Regions from separate parts of the Homo sapiens genome. Here region 1 is linked to region 2. A link means that fine-mapping ties the variant in region 2 to the expression of a gene that starts in the linked region. Tissue or cell type: whole blood. Region 2 holds a variant in brackets; the other region holds the start of a gene. All regions are shown on one strand. Distances are from middle to middle.

The links. PIP is the estimated chance that this variant, and not a neighbour inherited with it, causes the effect.
Region 1: TMEM131 starts here. The variant in region 2 is fine-mapped to the expression of TMEM131 in whole blood (TOPMed, PIP 0.97).

What each region holds. Positions count from the first base shown.
Region 1 is chr2:97,994,398-97,997,079 of GRCh38, forward strand. TMEM131 (transmembrane protein 131) reads right to left here and starts at 1,551. Exons shown (of 41, transcript NM_015348.2): 1 at 1,079-1,551. The coding sequence starts at 1,265. RefSeq lists silencers at 841-1,400, 1,511-1,760 and enhancers at 1,297-1,810, 1,981-2,260.
Region 2 is chr2:97,789,479-97,792,160 of GRCh38, forward strand. The region is part of intron 31 of TMEM131 (transmembrane protein 131); the gene reads right to left. Among named protein-coding and RNA genes, the nearest start is that of ZAP70, 77 kb to the left of the region's middle. The variant T/C (reference allele first, on the strand shown) is at 1,227.

The DNA of each region.
Region 1 (2,682 bases), 200 kb after region 2:
TAAAAGAAACAGTATACTGAAGCACATTTGCACTTTAATACTAATTTGGTTTGTATTTGCTTTCACCTTCAGCAACAATAAAAAGCAAGTGACTTTAGTCATAAAGTAGAATGTTAACTCTAAAATTACCGTGGCAAGAAATTGTTTTCTTGTACAGGCAGTTTCATGTGCAATGCTAAACTAACAAGTTTTGCGTGGTTTGTTTTTTTTTTAAACTATTCACTTAGTCAATTCTTCATGAAGGCTCTGTGACCATTCACATGTCCCTTGGCTCAAAAAGAGGTAGTGTAGATGAAATTACACTGATTTGGTCTTCAAGATTACAAAATAATTTTTGACCCTGTCCAAGTACCCGTTTTGCAGCAGTACAATACTAATGAGATTTTTAAAATAGGGGCCAGCCCTTAACTGTAAATTATAGATAAATGCTTGCAAGCTGGCAACTTCACGTTTATTTTTAAAGGCTTTCACATCAAAGATAAAGGCACCGAATCACGTATTTTAAAATAAGAAATGTAAACAGGCTTTCAACAGCTTACTAAAGAGTTAAATGGAATTGTATTTAGGTCTAATAATAAAGTTATCAATAACGCAGAGACACTAAAGGAGGAAGCTACAGGACCAAGATTTCCCCTCGAAGAAATGTCTGAACAAATTCAAAGTGAAATTTTTTAAGCTGTGTCTCGCTATTTTTACCACATTTTAAAGTAAGCTCTGTCTGCATGCAACCAACCGCAACCAAGAAAACAGAAGTGTCCTAAAATGTACCTATTCGCCGCAATAAAGCCAAAAAATATGCCCCTCCTACCTAGCGGGCCAAGTGGCAAGAACGTACGAGAAGTCAGGAAGTTTTGAAATGGCAGTGACAGGAGACGGGGGAAGGCACGGGAAGGAATCACGGAGAGCGAAGGCCACTCCGTGCGGCGGGCGCCGCGAGGTCCCGGCTCGGGACGGTACCCGACCGCCCAACTTTGCGCCGGAGCCCCGGCCGCGGCCCTTCCTCCCGGCCCAGCCCTCCCGGCCTCCGCGAGAGCGGGGTGACAGCCCCGCCGCAGGGACGCCGCCGGGGGACACCCACCTTCCTTCTCGGCCCGCGCCGCAGCCACTACGAGGGTCATCACCAGGTGCAGCGCGCCTAGGAGGCCGGCGGCCGCGCTCCGCGGGCCCCCGCTACGGGCGGCCGCAGGTTCCAGCCCGGCCCCGGCGGACGTGGAGACGGCGGCGGTGGTGGCTCCGGTTGCTCCTCCTCCCGCCCGCTTCCCCATCCCTGCCGGCCGGGGGCCGCCGCGCTCGAGGTCCGGCGCGGCCCTTCTCGGCGAGGCGGCGGCGGCGCGGAAGCCGTGGTCCGGGCTCTGGCCGCGGCGCCGGGAGCGACAACGGTTGCGAGCCCGGGGCTCGATCTCCGAGCGTGGGCCTGGGTCCGTGCGTGCGTGTGAGCGAGAGTGTCAGTCACGGTCTTTGCCTGGGCATCGCCTACAAGCAGTCGGAGCGGAGAGGCCGCGGGTCAGGCGCGGCGGGCGGCCATACTGGAAACGGGCACGGCCCGCGAGCCCTGAGCGCTGGCCTGCGAGGGGCGGGGCGCGGCTCTGGGCACCGCCCACGCTGTGCCGACACCTGGGCTGTCCGGCGGTCAGTCTGTCCGCCCCGGAGCCCCCTGGGCCCCACCTCCTCGTCCCGCTCTCGGAGGCCTGCGGCTTCACGGCCAGACAGAACCAGGACAGAACAACCCCAGCCCGTTACCGCTACCTGGCGCAGGAGAAGGAGGGAGGCAGGCCCAGGTCCAGCTGCCAGGACTTATGATGGCGGCTTCTGCTTCGCGGAGGCGGTGTCGGCAATCACGTGGAGACGGGGCGGCCTCGCCGCGCAGCCGCCGCGTTGCGTGGGCGGGGCAGGGGCGGAGTTGCGGGGCGCTAACCTCTTCTCCGGCGCCTGGGCAATCCTCCGTGCTCTGTCCTACAGTGGTAGAGCCTTCCAGGGGTGTGAGTGCGCATACAGACCGCGAGACGAGCGCGGAAGGTCCGTTCCAGTGACTCTTCCTGGTGGCACCCCCACCTCTCGACCGCTTTGACGTCGAGAATACCCCGGGCCTGACTCAGTTCTTGATGGTGCTTCCTTGAGGATGGTGGCCCGCTGAACTCATCCTTGGGTCTTCCAAATCATGGTACCCAGGAGGAGCTTGATGGAGTCCTCTTGCCTTGGCTTGTGCCCACATTGGCGCGGAACACCTCGTGTGCAGAAAGCGTCGGTGACTCTGGATGGAGAAGGCAGGGGCAAACAGACTGCTCTTTAGAATATCCAGTAGCCGGCTTCCTCTCTCGAGGAAGAATTCTTTTTTTTCTTTTCTTTATTTTTTAATTATTTATTTATTTTTGAGACAGGGTCTGGTTCTGCCGCCCAGGCTGGAGTGCAGTGGTGCGGTCTGGGACTACAGGCACCCGCCACCACGCCACGCCAATTTTTCTTTTTCTTTTAAGAAACGCTGTCTCACTATGTTGGCCGAGCAGGTCTCGAACTCCTGGGCTCAAGCAGTCCGCCTTCCTCGGCCTTCCAGAGTGCTGGGATCACAGGCGTGAGCCACTGTGCTGGGCCCGGAAAAATTCTTAAGACGTCTGTTACCTTCACGAGCCATCTCGCGCCTCTTAGATGCCCTTTTCATCTTAGGTTGAGCTTCTTGGTGCGCAT
Region 2 (2,682 bases):
ACTTTAAAAATAACAAGTGGAGGCTCAGGGGAGTCATTTTCTCCCAAGTCACACAGTTAGTAAGGGAGCGGAGTCAAGATATAATCTGCACCTGCCTAATGGCAGAACGTGGCCTCAGGACGCCACACCTCTCTGCCTCTCCCTACCCTTGATAAAGCCAAAGCCAGAAACGAGAATGGCCACAGACGCCATCATTTCTCTGGTTAACAGACACTGAGACCCAACTGTGCCAGGCTCACGGCTTTCTTGGGTTTTAGCCCTCAATCCTGCAGTGGCTGCTGTCCAGTCCATGGGGTTTAAGTGTTAGAGGGGGGAGAAACCAAAGAAGTACAGAATCTAATGATTATTCAGCAACAAGAGTCCCTGCTCAGGCCAACCATGAACAGGCGGCATTTCTGGGCATCATCTTCCACTGGAAGCAGTGACTGGAGAGATGGCATAGCATGGCTGTGTGGCTTGCAAGCCATCCAACCGCAGAAGGCAAGATCCAGGGAGATAAACACATTCACTTGAAGAGGTCATCCTGAGCAGCTTCCAAAAACCAGAAACTACATAAGCTCATTATAAGAAATAATTTTAGTATGAGATACCAGGGGGAGAAAAAAAAGAACGTGTTGCCTCTAAAAAGAGAATGTTACTATTTAATGTAAATCTGCTATTTGCAGGGGTGTGGGGGTAGGCTTTTGAAAGATTATAAAGGTTTTGCCCAGCTGGAAGCCTATAGTTTCACAACATACTACTAGTTTGCAACCCCAAGATCAATGCCCACCTTTTAAAGTTCATTTTAAAGACTGTCTGTCTATATGCATGCTATACTTCAATAAAAACATTGAAGAAGAAAAAAAATATAGATACAGGCTCCTTCCTTTTTCCCAAACAGCATCAGTGGGAAGGATAGTGAGTAGAGTAGCCGCGCCTGCAAAGCTTCTAACCACTGTCTCCTCACAGGCTCAAGAGTCACCAATAATGTGGCATCCATGCTCCCTCACTGAGTATCTCTTAGTAGGTTGACTCTAGGACCACTGTGAAAATTAAAAAGCATTTCATTTTAAAATTTAGGTTCTCAATGAGTGACCCTGAAAATAGAATTGGCCCATCACGCTGGTGTTGGAAGACTGTGTTGACACAGGAATGAGGTAGTCAATTTGACTGCCCAACTCTTTCTTTGTGATAAGAAAGGATAATACAGATTTATTTTATTCACGCCCTAAATGTGGGGAAAACGC[T/C]ATGTAACTTGATCTAATTAAAAAAGAACTTTTAAGTATTCACTTAAGATTATTCTAAAAATTACCCTAAAATATGTAAGCTCAGTTAATAATGGGTTAGCCAAAAAGGATTTCTGTAGAAGAGGTTAACCAATCATATTCAAGACATCTTACTGTTTTACAAATCCGAATGCGTGTAATTCCAAGAGAACTCAATAGAGCTAGTTTTTGTATTCCTGGGACTAAAAAATTATCTAAAACTCCTTGACTCTGGGATGTCAAGTTTCTTCTGGCCTCTTAGGGCTGCCAAGATCCCTGTTTTCCGTATAAATTGAAGCCCAAAACTCCTTGGTAAACCATTCTGGAAGGGACTGATACAGGCTTGGAATAATGTATATTAGCATGGCTGCCACAAGACAGAAAGGAAGATGCAAAAAAGCTCAGGCTGTGAAGGGATGAAATTGCAATACAACTAGAGGCTATTTACTGGTTTTTACCTTTTGATTCTGGAGCTTACAAACTGGTCTACCTATTTGTGTGTGGTGCAGACTTCCAAGCTCCCAGTGGTGCCCACCTCTTGGTATTTATGCCCTTGCGCGGTTCTCTCTCCTGGAGTGTGGGCTGGACCACACTTCGAATGAGCAGAATACTACAACATTGATGGGATGCCACTTCCCAGATTAGATAGTAAGAAACAGTGACTTCCGTCCTGCTTCCTCCTTGCCCTCTTGTTTGCTCATTCTGGGGGAGCCAACTGCCAAGCTGTGACCCGCTCTGTGGAGAGGAACCATGACAGACCTCTGGCCACAGCCAGCAAGGAGGAGCTTGGGCCCTCCGTCCAACAGTCCGTGAAGAACTGAATCCCACCATCAACTGCCTGTGTGAACGTGGAAGCAGGTCCACCTTCAGTTGAACCTTAAGATGACATCAGCCTTGGCCAACACCTTGACTGCAGTCCTGTGTCCTGTGAGGGCCATGGGACCCCGCTAAGCTGTACTCATGTCCCTGACCACAGAAACTGTGAGATAAGAGTATACGTTCTTTTAAGCCCCTGGGTTTTGAGGTCATCTGTTACTCAGAAATAGGTAATTAATACAGTAAGCAGAACTCTAAAGCAGGGTTGGCTTTTTTTGCAAAGGGCCAGATAGCAAATATTTTCAGCTCTGTGGGCCATATTGTTTTGGTCACAATTACTTAACTGTGCCATAGAAGCATGAAAGCTGAGGATATACCAACAAATGAGCATGGTTCTATTCCAATAAAACTTTATTTATAAAACCAGGTGGTGATTTGGCCCGCTAACTGTAGTCTGCCAACCCCTGCTCTAAAGTAAAGAAATCCTAATTTGGAGTTAAAAGGCAGATGATCTCCATTTTACTCCTGTGCTCAAAATTATTTTAACAATAAAACAAAAGCTAAATCTATCACAATAACACAATCTCAGGCAGCTGAAAAGAAAAGCAGATGTCCACAGAAT